Linked DNA regions of Homo sapiens. The protein of the gene in region 3 interacts with the protein of the main gene of each other region in a pairwise test. Each region holds a gene or a part of one and is shown on either strand. Other genes may lie near its edges.

What was found. The genes of interacting proteins can lie anywhere in the genome.
Region 1: the proteins of BAG3 (region 3) and SHISA6 interact in binary tests that used the Homo sapiens proteins (3 or more experiments, as listed by UniProt).
Region 2: the proteins of BAG3 (region 3) and OSGEP interact in binary tests that used the Homo sapiens proteins (3 or more experiments, as listed by UniProt).
Region 4: the proteins of BAG3 (region 3) and ARRDC3 interact in binary tests that used the Homo sapiens proteins (3 or more experiments, as listed by UniProt).

What each region holds. Positions count from the first base shown.
Region 1 is NC_000017.11:11,261,713-11,265,212, forward strand, and holds part of SHISA6 (protein shisa-6 isoform 1 precursor), read left to right. Parts: intron 1-1,653; coding exon 1,654-1,814; intron 1,815-3,500. UniProt on the Homo sapiens protein: Involved in maintenance of high-frequency synaptic transmission at hippocampal CA3-CA1 synapses.
Region 2 is NC_000014.9:20,445,901-20,448,856, reverse strand, and holds the end of OSGEP (tRNA N6-adenosine threonylcarbamoyltransferase), read left to right. Parts: intron 1-45; coding exon 46-124; intron 125-685; coding exon 686-751; intron 752-862; coding exon 863-953; intron 954-1,166; coding exon 1,167-1,242; intron 1,243-1,336; coding exon 1,337-1,435; intron 1,436-1,577; coding exon 1,578-1,617; 3' UTR 1,618-2,456; downstream 2,457-2,956. UniProt on the Homo sapiens protein: Component of the EKC/KEOPS complex that is required for the formation of a threonylcarbamoyl group on adenosine at position 37 (t(6)A37) in tRNAs that read codons beginning with adenine.
Region 3 is NC_000010.11:119,675,380-119,678,319, forward strand, and holds the end of BAG3 (BAG family molecular chaperone regulator 3), read left to right. Parts: intron 1-1,084; coding exon 1,085-1,903; 3' UTR 1,904-2,440; downstream 2,441-2,940. UniProt on the Homo sapiens protein: Co-chaperone and adapter protein that connects different classes of molecular chaperones including heat shock proteins 70 (HSP70s), e.g. HSPA1A/HSP70 or HSPA8/HSC70, and small heat shock proteins (sHSPs), e.g. HSPB8.
Region 4 is NC_000005.10:91,373,318-91,376,817, forward strand, and holds part of ARRDC3 (arrestin domain-containing protein 3), read right to left. Parts: intron 3,452-3,500; coding exon 3,304-3,451; intron 2,297-3,303; coding exon 2,194-2,296; intron 1,862-2,193; coding exon 1,605-1,861; intron 960-1,604; coding exon 797-959; intron 560-796; exon of another isoform or gene 522-559; coding exon 367-521; intron 1-366. UniProt on the Homo sapiens protein: Adapter protein that plays a role in regulating cell-surface expression of adrenergic receptors and probably also other G protein-coupled receptors.

The DNA of each region.
Region 1 (3,500 bases), on a different chromosome or scaffold from region 3:
ATGGACTTTTGGGTTGTATCTACCCTTTGGCTGTTATTAATACTGCTGCTATGAACCTTTGTACACAAGTTTAATGCAACATATATTTTTCATTGTTCTTGGGAATACCTAGGAGTAGATTTGCTGGGCCATATGTTAATTCTGCGTTTAAGGAACATTGCAGTTTTGAGGAGCTGCTAAACTGTTTACCAAAGGGATTGCAGGGTTTTCCATTTCCACCAGTAGTGTATGAAGGCTCCAATTTCTCTACCTCCTTGCCAATACTTGGTATTATGTGGCTTTTTGGTTATAGCTATCCTAGTGTGTATGAAAAGGTATCTCAGTGTGATTTACAGTTTTGGGACTAATATCTAGGTATATAATCCATTTTGAGTTAGTTTTTTATATGGTGTGAGGTAAGGATCCAACTCCCTTCTTTTTCATGTGGCGATCCAGTCAGTTGTCCCAGGACCATTTTGTGAAGAAACTATTCTTTCCCCCACAATTTACTCAGATGCATTTTTAAACTGCTGCAGTTGTCACTTTTCATGGGGGCAGAGTGTTGGAGCTGGACTCCTGGTAAGAGGGAAGCCTTGGGGTGGGCAGGGCCCCACCCATCAGAGACACCCCTCGAGAAGATGGAATAGTCTTTGCCTGGCATGTGCAAAACGGGAGTGCATTGAGGACTGGGGACCTGGATCTGAAGTGACAGTATCCAGGTGTAGTTTCTTGTGGCTGTCCACACTCATCTGTTTCCCACTGCCAGTGGGTATCTCACATGTCACACCCACAGAGGGCATCCTGTTTGAAAGCAAATAGGAGAGCGATTCCCCCTAAATTATGAACCCCTAGATGGCAGGAATTGGGTCCCATTGATCTGTGTCTCTTCAATGACTGATGCATGCTGAATCGTCAGTCAATGCATGTTTGGTTGTTGAAGCTAGGCGCTGAGTTAACAAAAGCTGCTTTCTCTGAGTAACTGGACCTCTTGCAGGGGGGCGGGTCTCTCCTGCTATGGCAGAGTCTCTGCCTGTCTCTCTTTCTTCCTGTGTATTTTTCCCCTGTGTTTGTGATTGCTCCCTCCTCTAAACTCCAGTTGTCTTCAATGTCTGCACCATCCACGTGTTTTGATTTTTATCTTTTCATCTCTATGTCCTGTCTTTGCAGCTCAATCACACCCTTCCTTGATAGCAGGAGCTGTGTGTTGTACTTATTTGGGTCTCCAGTATCTAGTACATGATACTCAGTGTGTAGTTTTGGATGATGAAGTGGTCCCCTGATATTAGTGACCTGCTGCTGAATTTGAGGCCGATGGTTTCAGCCCTTCACCATAGTGGCATTCCACTGGCCAGCTGCTATAGATACCTGCCTGGCATAGGTGGATATTTGGGGAGCCAGTATTTTGAAAGGGCTCAGAGTTTACTGATGTGAAATAAATTAAAGAAAGAAACCGTAGTCCCAGCCTTTTAGTCTGTACCTCCAGGCATGGTAACCTTTACCCTGTGTCCCCCCTGAGACCAACACCAGATGTAGCTGACTATTGAGAGCTGAATGCTGTCTCTGTCTCTTCCTGCATCTCTGTAAATCAAAGGGCATATGAAAGTAAGCCAACTCCCCTCATGGTTGTGCACACCTGCTCAGTGAATCTCATTATGTGATCTCCTCCTTGTTTAGGGCTCTGGCTGACATCTTAAGACAACAGGGACCAATCCCCATAGCACACTGTGAAAGAGAAACTATCTCGGCTATCGATACCTCTCCCAAAGAGAACACGCCGGTCAGATCGTCCTCCAAAAACCACTACACTCCTGTGCGTACGGCCAAGCAGACTCCAGGTAAGTAACAGCTGGGCACCTTGATTCTTTGCTGAGGCTGGTGAGAGGTTTCAGGATGTTTCTGCTCTGGTGGGGCAGGTTGTGGACCATGATGGTGTGATGAGGGACTCTCATGGACAGGCAGGCTGGCAAAAGATTTTTGGGACTCTCTCCCTGGGGTGAGTTTGGAATGGGCAAGACTGCTGCCGGTCAGTGTCTGGGCTGGATGAGGACTGACAATTTCAGGCACTTGTGACCTAGTGAGTGGTTGGTATAATTCTCTTACCGGAAAAGGAGCTTGCAGCATCCATAGCAGGGTATGGCCATCCATTCGCCCACGTGGTGGGAAACTTTAGGCTGAGTAGGATGCTAGATATGTGACAAGAAATTACTGTACCCCAATGTAGAGCCTGCTCAACTATTGGGATCTCAAAGAGCTCCTTCCTGAGGGTGAGAATTAACATCTGTATTTTTGAGTGACCTTTTCCTGTGCTCTGTAGATTCCCTGGATGTATGATGAGTTGCCATAAAATAACAATATGCCTTTTACTTTTTGTACTTATCATAGCTATAACTGTGAAGAAAATGGCAGGGCTTATTTTCCTTGTCTTACGGGTCAATATATGCAGCTCAAAGAAATTTAGTAACTTGAACAAGGTCACTGAGATGTTAATAATAATTTAAAAATCAGTAATAACAGTAATATAACCTAAATATTTATTGGAATCTTGTTCTGTGCCAAGAGTCATGCTGAGCCTTTTACATATATTTTCTTATTTATTCTCCACAGCAATCTTAGAAGTACTTATATTATCCCCATTTTGTGTGAGGAATGGAAAGGTTAAGTAACTTTCCCAAGGTCACATGATTAGTAAGAGAGAAAAACAAGATTCAAGCCAAGGCAAATAGTTAACAACAGTAAGAACTAGGAAACCGTAATATCCTTACCCAGTTAAGGGTATGAATCCAAAATATCTGAGTGGACAGTCTCCTTAACAAGTACAGCTTGGGAAGTCATCTCTTGTAGTGAGTGTTTCCAGATAGCCTCTTACTGGTACTAATCCTAGTCCCAGAGAAAGCTTTTACTTTGATGCTTGGATCTGAAATCTGCACATCTATTGCTCAACAGTTTTCAGAGGATGGGCAATGTGATCTGAACTAAACCTGCAATAAGGATATATAGCCACTAGGTGGCAGTGGGTGTGATCAAATCCAAACTATAGCAAAGGTGCTGATGAGACCAAATTTATTTTCCATTCATTCTTTAATTTTCTTAAATTTATTACGTCAGAAACCTAATATTTGCTTTTAAAATAGCATTCTTAAATCTTTTGAGAACCTAATAAAGGCAGATGACACTCCCTCCTGAAAAATACAAATACATATACATATTCATATTCAATCAACAGTTTGTATATGATTGAGGGGAATTAATAGATTCATCCAAAGTTAAAAACCTCTGCTGTAAAGGTAAAGATGAGGGCTCCACCTTTGCAAAATGTCTAAGATGCATTTTCAGCTTTAATACCATAGGTCCTTAAAACAAGCAATAGAAGGAATCTTGGCAAAAACTTCTGGACCAGTGGTCATCTACATGGCAGCGTTTTAGAATCACCTGAGGAGGTCTTAAAATTGCTGATGCCTGGGCTCCACAGAATCACTAGAATTTCTAGGGATGGTGCTGGCATCACATTAGTGTTTTAAACA
Region 2 (2,956 bases), on a different chromosome or scaffold from region 3:
CAGCTGACTGTAGGCTTAGTGCCTCGTACGCTTATTCCCACATAGAGGCAAGAAGCTAGTTGAGCTGCCATACACTGTAAAGGGGATGGACGTCTCATTCTCAGGGATCCTGTCTTTCATTGAGGTGAGTGTGAGAGGTGATGAGACGGGCACTTTCATGCTTTTTAAATGAAGCATATCTGTTTTACTTACGATTATATTTCGTATAGCTCAGTATATTCATGTAGCACAGTACTGGTCCATATCATGTGCTGGGTAAATTCATTTAGAAGGTATTCATTGAATATCTCTGTGTGCCACATGCTGTTCTAGATAGTAGAGATGCAGCATGGAGCAAAACAAAAATCCCTGTCTACATGGAGCTTAGATTCTAAATGGGGGGCGGGGGAGATAAGAAAGAGGAAAATAATGAAGTGCCAGATGATGATGAGTACAGGTGAAAAATTAAGCAGGATAAGTAAGGGGTGAGAGATGTCAGGACAAGTATTCAAAAAGTAATGATTGCATCTTAAATGAAAGCTGCTCATTCTATGCCATGATGCCAGTGAAGGGAATGTGGTACAGGATGTGCTGGTAACTTGAATTGTGGTGAAACATGATGACCCTCCGAATGCATTAATTTTTGCTCTCGTGTAATCCCAAAACCATGATTTGTTGATTCTTTTGTTTTTCCCTTTAATTGTAGGATGTAGCCCATCGGATGCTGGCCACAGGCGAGTGTACTCCTGAGGATCTGTGTTTCTCCCTGCAGGTAATGCAGTAAAAAACTGGGACAGAAAGTTGGGGCTGAAGGTTTTATATTGTAGAGCAGAACTAATCTGGGATGCCCCTCTAATATTTTCTCCTTATCTGTCCCTGACAGGAAACTGTGTTTGCAATGCTGGTAGAGATCACAGAGCGAGCCATGGCACATTGTGGCTCCCAGGAGGCCCTCATTGTGGGAGGAGTGGGGTGTATGTATTATTGAAAAGTGTTCCTCTTTCCTATTCTTAACACTATGCGTCTTCCTCCTGGTACTCTAAATCATTAAGCGTTTGGAGTAGGCTTCCCAATCCTTGCCCCTAATCCCCTATGTCATTGTTCTAAGTGAGTGCACATGACGTGTTCTGCTGGACCATGAAGAGATGGCTAAAACTAAGCTAATCCTGTTCCCTGCCTCTTTGTAGGTAATGTGAGGCTACAGGAGATGATGGCAACAATGTGCCAGGAACGTGGAGCCCGGCTTTTTGCTACAGATGAGAGGTAAAGACACTTTCCCTTTGGTTTCTTTTTTACTTCTCCTGTTATAGTGATTTTCCACCCTTAGATCCCAATTTTCATCTCTCTTGCATCCCAGATTCTGTATTGACAATGGAGCGATGATAGCCCAGGCTGGCTGGGAGATGTTTCGGGCTGGACACAGGACCCCACTCAGTGATTCTGGGGTTACACAGAGGTGAGTGATTCACCTCTTGGTGAGGGTAGATTATTGGGACATAGACAAAAACAGCAGGGAAGAGTCCAGGAACATGAGGGCAGAGAAGAATGAAGGATGTTAAGGGCTCGCTCTCCACCATGTTTCTTCTGTTTTTCCACAGGTATCGGACAGATGAAGTAGAGGTGACCTGGAGGGACTAATAAGATCAACAGAATCAGAGTAGATAGTTCCTTAATCGGAACCCAAAGGACCCCGTGCCTCAATCTCTATCCTGATGTCATGGGAGTCCTAGCAAAGCTATAGACTCCAAGCAAGGCTTGGGGTCCTTTATGGAACCCCAGGATGACTCAGCAATAAAATATTTTTGGTTTTTTGGTTTTGTATGTTGGTGATTGGATTGTGTTGTTCAGGACCAATGTAGATTTGGTGCTGGATAAATTCTTGTTGGAGCTTGCTGCTGTGGAACCAAGAATGAGGTATCTTTTTTTTTTTTTTTAAGAAACGGAATCTTGCTGTGTTTCCCAGGCTGGTCTCGAACTGGGCTCAAGCAGTCTTACCACCTCAGCCTCCTGAGTAAGGATGCCATTGTGCCTGGCAACAATAGTAGTATCATAACTATTATTATAGCATCGGGTCCCGTGCTAACTGCTTTACATTCATTCTCTCATTTAAATTCTTTGAAGTAGGTGTGCAAGACTTCTCTCAAAATAGCCTGGAGGCTCACACCTGTTATCCCAGTGCTGTGGGAGGCCAAGTCAGGAGGATCCCTTGAGCCCAGGAGTTTGAGCCCAGCCTGGGCAAATAGCAAGACACCATCTATTTGAAAAATGTAAAAATTATCTGGGCATGGTGGCGCACATCTGTAGTCCCAGCTCCAAGGGAGGCTGAGGCGGGAAGATAGCTTGAGCCCAGGAGTTTGAGGTTGCAGTGAGCTGTGATTGAGCCACTGCATTCCAGCCTGAGTGACAGAACAAAACCTTGTCTCTTAAAAACAAACAAACAAACAGCCTGGAGATTGGTCTAACTTGTAACTCTAAAACTGCCTCTACTCCGTATACTTTCTCCTACATGCACATCCATCGGCAGGCTTGAGGAATGCCCGCAGATGCACATCCCTCCGTACCACAAACAACAGAACGAATCTCATACCCTTAATCTTATTGATGTTGATATCAATCATCACAATTAGTCCTAAACTACTGAGTCATCTCATCTTTTACACTTAATAACCATGTATCTCCACTCTGTTTTGTCTCCATCTACCTACCTTTTCCAACTCTAGAAGCTCTTCCACTGTGCCCTCTGGAACTGATGGCCAGTCATTTGTCAAATTCTCTGTGTCCTCAACCTCTTCTCTGAACGTTCCCTTCACATTTATGCTCTTCAGACTTGGTTTCTTATGAGGACTCTGCTTCTCCTACCACCTCAGTAGTGGTGGCATTTTCCCTTCCACACCCAGTGTCCCACTGGGCCTGGAGGTGGTGCACGTGTCCTCATACTGTTTCCAGACCATTATCCCTCATCCCTAGTACCCTTCTG
Region 3 (2,940 bases):
AAACCTGTGCAGCCAGAGGTTAGCACAGAGGCGCTGTGTCATTGCTGAATGTTAGGCTACAGCACAGCTATCCTGAAGCAAAATTGTTCTGGAGTTAACCATTTAGAGCATCTTGGCTAATCCTAAAAAAATACATTGGTCTGGGCAGAAACTACTAGGCTGTCACGGTTTTAAAAAAAGAAGATCGTATCTTTTCTAAAACAGGAGACAAGAAGATCACACCGTGAGCAGACTGTCTGCACAGTGTAAGGAAGAAGGACCAGAGGCAGCGACTCCAAGGCTGCAACACCTGAGAGCTGGAGTCACTCAGGACTCTGCTCTGAGTCAGCCTAGTTCAGCAGTCAGCATGAGTTTTTGCTATTTTTTTCCTTCTTTCCTTCCTTCCTTCCCTCCTTCCCTCCCCCTCCCTTCCCCCCTTCCCCTTCCCCCCTTCCCTGCTTCCTTCCCCCTTCCCCCTTCCCTCCTTCCTTCCTGCCCCCTTCCCCCTTGCCCCCTTCTCCCCTTCCTTCCTTCCTTCCTTCCCCCCTTCCTTCCTTCCTTCCTCCCTCCCTCCCTTCCTTCTTTGAGACAGGATCTCGCTCTGTCACTCAGGCTGGAGTGCAATGACATAATCGTGGCTCACTACAGCCTTGAATTCCTGGGCTCAAGCGATTCTTCCGCCTCAGCCTTCTGAGTAGCTGGGACTACGAGTGCAAGCTCCCACACCTGGCTAATTTTTAAAGATTTTTTGTAGGGTTGGGGTCTTACTATATTGCCCAGGTTAGCTATTTTCATTTTTGAAAATTTTATTGGGTTTCTTTTCATTGCCATTAAGAATACCATCTACAGAGAAATTCAGTGAGAGGTAATAGACAAATAGCCTGGGGTGATCAATGGAAGCCTGACTAATGATTGGGTTACATACATGATTAATACCATGTTTTTATTTTGTAACAGCCATTGATTGACTTTGAAAATCTTTTATACTATTAAACTTTTTTTAAAAAGCCATTTCTCAGTTTTCTTTCTAATCTGTACTAGCTACAAACAATTTCTGTGACTTTCAGTCAGTTATTAAAAATATATTTTTGTGTCCTTTTTTCAGCAGCCCATGACCCATCGAGAAACTGCACCTGTTTCCCAGCCTGAAAACAAACCAGAAAGTAAGCCAGGCCCAGTTGGACCAGAACTCCCTCCTGGACACATCCCAATTCAAGTGATCCGCAAAGAGGTGGATTCTAAACCTGTTTCCCAGAAGCCCCCACCTCCCTCTGAGAAGGTAGAGGTGAAAGTTCCCCCTGCTCCAGTTCCTTGTCCTCCTCCCAGCCCTGGCCCTTCTGCTGTCCCCTCTTCCCCCAAGAGTGTGGCTACAGAAGAGAGGGCAGCCCCCAGCACTGCCCCTGCAGAAGCTACACCTCCAAAACCAGGAGAAGCCGAGGCTCCCCCAAAACATCCAGGAGTGCTGAAAGTGGAAGCCATCCTGGAGAAGGTACAGGGGCTGGAGCAGGCTGTAGACAACTTTGAAGGCAAGAAGACTGACAAAAAGTACCTGATGATCGAAGAGTATTTGACCAAAGAGCTGCTGGCCCTGGATTCAGTGGACCCCGAGGGACGAGCCGATGTGCGTCAGGCCAGGAGAGACGGTGTCAGGAAGGTTCAGACCATCTTGGAAAAACTTGAACAGAAAGCCATTGATGTCCCAGGTCAAGTCCAGGTCTATGAACTCCAGCCCAGCAACCTTGAAGCAGATCAGCCACTGCAGGCAATCATGGAGATGGGTGCCGTGGCAGCAGACAAGGGCAAGAAAAATGCTGGAAATGCAGAAGATCCCCACACAGAAACCCAGCAGCCAGAAGCCACAGCAGCAGCGACTTCAAACCCCAGCAGCATGACAGACACCCCTGGTAACCCAGCAGCACCGTAGCCTCTGCCCTGTAAAAATCAGACTCGGAACCGATGTGTGCTTTAGGGAATTTTAAGTTGCATGCATTTCAGAGACTTTAAGTCAGTTGGTTTTTATTAGCTGCTTGGTATGCAGTAACTTGGGTGGAGGCAAAACACTAATAAAAGGGCTAAAAAGGAAAATGATGCTTTTCTTCTATATTCTTACTCTGTACAAATAAAGAAGTTGCTTGTTGTTTGAGAAGTTTAACCCCGTTGCTTGTTGTTCTGCAGCCCTGTCTACTTGGGCACCCCCACCACCTGTTAGCTGTGGTTGTGCACTGTCTTTTGTAGCTCTGGACTGGAGGGGTAGATGGGGAGTCAATTACCCATCACATAAATATGAAACATTTATCAGAAATGTTGCCATTTTAATGAGATGATTTTCTTCATCTCATAATTAAAATACCTGACTTTAGAGAGAGTAAAATGTGCCAGGAGCCATAGGAATATCTGTATGTTGGATGACTTTAATGCTACATTTTAAAAAAAGAAAATAAAGTAATAATATAACTCAAAATGGTTTTTGTGGTTTCTAAATCTTTGAAAGCAGTGGCATCATGGAGATTGTCTGTCCCTGGTTTCAGTCAGAATAAATGACAGGTGCATTTAACAAGCCTGCTTTGGGTTTTGTGACGTCTCCAATAGCCCGGCTCAAGAGAGAATTGTCTTGGTCACCTTTCAGTCTCAGATTGCAACAGGAACCTGGGAAGACTCAGGGCTGTGAACTCCGGTAATGGGAACATGCCTGCTGCATCCGTTCGGACCGACCCAGCCAACAGCCAAGGTGCCAGTTAGGTAGCATGTCTGCCCACCTGTCCTCAGGCCTCACCAAGAAGCTGAGATTGTCCAAAAGTGCCCAGAGGGCCTGGCGCAATGGCTCACACCTGTTATCCCAGCACTTTGGGAGGCCAAGGCAGGAGGATCCCTTGAGGCCAGGAGTTTGAGACCAGCCTGGGCAACATAGCAAGACCCTGTCTCTACAAAAAACAAATCAGCCAGGTGGTGGCATGCGTCTTC
Region 4 (3,500 bases), on a different chromosome or scaffold from region 3:
AATAAGATAAATTCTACTATTTAATCAGTGTTTGCAAAATGCTAGTTCTTCCTATTGATGCTTGGATATACAAAATTCTTCCTTCAAAAAATGTGTCTCAAGATAAAAGTTTAAGAGAAAAAAAAATTAGTAATTCAACATGAGGTTAGATCATTATCTTAATTCCCTAATAAGTGAACAGTCCTACCTCTGCATCAAACTTAGTAAATATTGATGAACCTAATATTAACTTTTAATCTGTTGTTTTAAATTATTTGTTCTGTTAACATGATAATCAAGATCTAATAACATTAAGAAAAAAAAATGCCTGCAATGCTATTTCCCAAGATAGCCAGTTCATTTCATACTTAAGGAGTAGGTACTTACCTCTGAATAAAGAGGTGGAGGCAAGAATCGAAACTCCTGGATATATGCAAACAGTGGTCCTTGAAGGGCTCTCTCAAAGTCATCACAAGCACTCACTGGTGCAAGATTGTTCCGCCTTTGTTCCTCTGTTACCACTTCTGCATAGCTGGGTGGTGCTGAAGGAAAAAGATACACGCAATTCGAACAGCATGTTCTTATGCATGTCAAAATACACAGAATAGTAGGTATTAAAAAGCAACGTCAAGGTAAAATAATTATTGTTTGGTGATCAAAACTATGAAGACATATAATCAAAACTGAATATTAGGGGCACATCTACTTTCTTTAGGAAAAGATTATGTTCATCTAGGGTCATAAAATATCAGAGGCAAAATAATTTTCTTGATAATAGTAGTAAGAGATTAAGCTTAGACGTGTATTATCAAATTACCTTCAGGTCTTTCAGGAAGTGATAAACTGAGCCAGTTCATATTCATGCTACACTGACTGCTTACACTTGAGGTTCTGCTACCAAATGGATGTAGAGGAATGGTACCGATGACAAGTGGCAAATTAAGAAATAAATCCATAGCTCCAGGAATATCCACATATACCTAAACATTGCAAAGAAATATTAAGTTTAGAATGCCAAGTATGATTTCCTTTTCAAAAACTCATAACCAATTTTAATGTTATTTGAAACCCCCATTTACTTCATTTTTAAACTTACATACATGAAAAGTTTCTCTTTTATGTATAATTCTGTATAGTACATTTACATATAAGGTATAATTGTAAGTCAAACTATATAAAGAGTTATGTATTTTATATGTCACTATATATGGAATTTAAAAAAATCAAATCCTGGATGTAAGACAAAACTATGTCATAACTTTAAGACTTAAAAACAAAACAAAAAAAAACACCAAAAACCTCTTGGGCCAGGCACTGTGGCTCATGCCTATAATTCCAACATTTTGGGAGGCCATGGTGGATGGATCACTTGAGCCCAGGAGTTCAAGACCAACCTGGGCGACATGGTCAAACTCCATCACTACAAAAAATACAAAAATTATCCAGGCATGGCTATAGGCACACCTGTAGTCCCAACTACTTGGGAGCTGAGGTGGGAGGATCACTGGAGCCCAGAAAGCAGAGGCTGTAGCGGAGCTGAGACTGTGCCACTGCATTCCAGCCTGGGTGACAGGTGTTTCAAAAAAGAAAAAAGAAAGGAAAAAACCTCTTAAATGTGTACATACCATTAGTGAATATTCCACGCGGATTATACTACAGTCGAGGATAGAGGGAGAAACTGGTGGAATTTTCAGCAACTTGCCATTCCACGTCTCTGTCTTTCCAGATGATAAGGATTCCCCACGCAAGTTAGCCACAAGCTGTTTTACTTCCTTCATTTTCCCTTTGGCATAGAAGGCCTGTGTTTGGTAAATGGCTGCCTTTGGCACCACCATTCGGGAAGAGCAGTTCTCAATCTCAGCAAATATCTGAATTGATTCACCTAGAGAGGGAAAAATATATACATATCTACTGTTAGAAAAAAACAACAAAAGAAGTCAAGATTCTTAAAGCTAAAGTAAGAAAGTGCAACTAACATACATGAAAAGATGTCCCAGGAACTGCAAATAACTTGAGTCATAGAAATGAACTAATCAGTAGCTATTTGAAAAAGGAAACTACATTCTACTTTGTGAAAAAAACAAATGGATAAGCACAATTTGTTATTTCACAAAAGAATACTATATTATGTTTATATTTAGTAGTCATATTATAAATTTAAACACAAAAGCTAAGTGAAGAAAAGTTTTTTGTGGGAATCTACCTCTTACATACCTGGGGTATAGCCCTTCCTTTCAATTTTGGCACTTAAGGATATTGGGCCTGAGGTACAGAACCAGCAACAGAGTGTCTTTTCTTTTGTGCCTGCTTGGGGTGACTGTAAGAAAAAAATTAAGAGAAAAAGGTCAGTGTATGGATTGGTACAATCAATACCAGAATATTTTAAAATATAACCCTAAATTTATGGAAAATTAAAAATTACAACTGGTTTTGCTTTTTTTTTGTATCCAGACATACTTCTTATTTTTTAACTAACCGATGGTTTTGAATTATACCATTACTTTTATTTTCATATAAATTTCCATTCAATTAGAAAAAAAAGGTAAAGGGTTTACAGCCTATCCCATAAACATAGTTTTTTAGCTCACACTATTTACAAATATAGTAATCAAAAACCAACCAAATAAAAAAAACCCTTTCCACATTCCATTTAAACTGCCTTAAAAAGGCAGCAAAGAAAGCAATCTGATTATAATTCCAAATGTTAACATCTTTCTCTGAGACTATTAAAAAATCAATATGTAAAAAAGGAAAATGCCCATTTCTTATGTGCTTTAAAGATGTTACCATTTGTTTAAATCAAATAAAGTTTTAAGTCAAATTTGAATTATTTTCAGACAAATGCAATTAAAAATAGATTTCTTTAAAAAAGGAGTTTTTTAATGAAACTAATGATTCCCCATTATTTGACAACTATCCCTCTATTGGAATAACAAAGTATAGTACAAATTTTAGATTATGATATTGTCAAGTAAGTGATATTGTATTATAATAAAAGATACTACTGCTCTTCTTCCACTCAAATCATCCAAGGACCAGATCTGTTTTTTGTTATGGCTGTCATACTCTGAGTAAGAGATACTTCATATCATATACTGGTCTTAGTTTTATATTTACTTAAAGGTATACTACAATGTCAAAAATATGAGCATATTTTTCATTAATTTCAGTGTTCTTGACTGTATTTAAGAAAATGTATATTTATGAAATTTTAAAAGAAAACCAGTATTTTTAAATTATGACAACTGCATAGTTTAGGTGATTGATTATTCTTTAATATTTATATGCCAAAAACAAAGAATAAATAATTCAGTCAATTCTTACCAGTAATGAAGGAGTGTTGATATCTATATGCTCAAAGACTGTAAATTCCTTCTTTAATTTTACTGGTAGTAGCCAAGGCCTGTGCAATTCGGCTTTCACCCAATAGCGCACACTGCCATGTCGGCCTTCGAATGAGGTAGCGAGTGGTCTGTGCAGAATATAAAGGTCAATATATTAATTTTATACCTCTTTCTAAC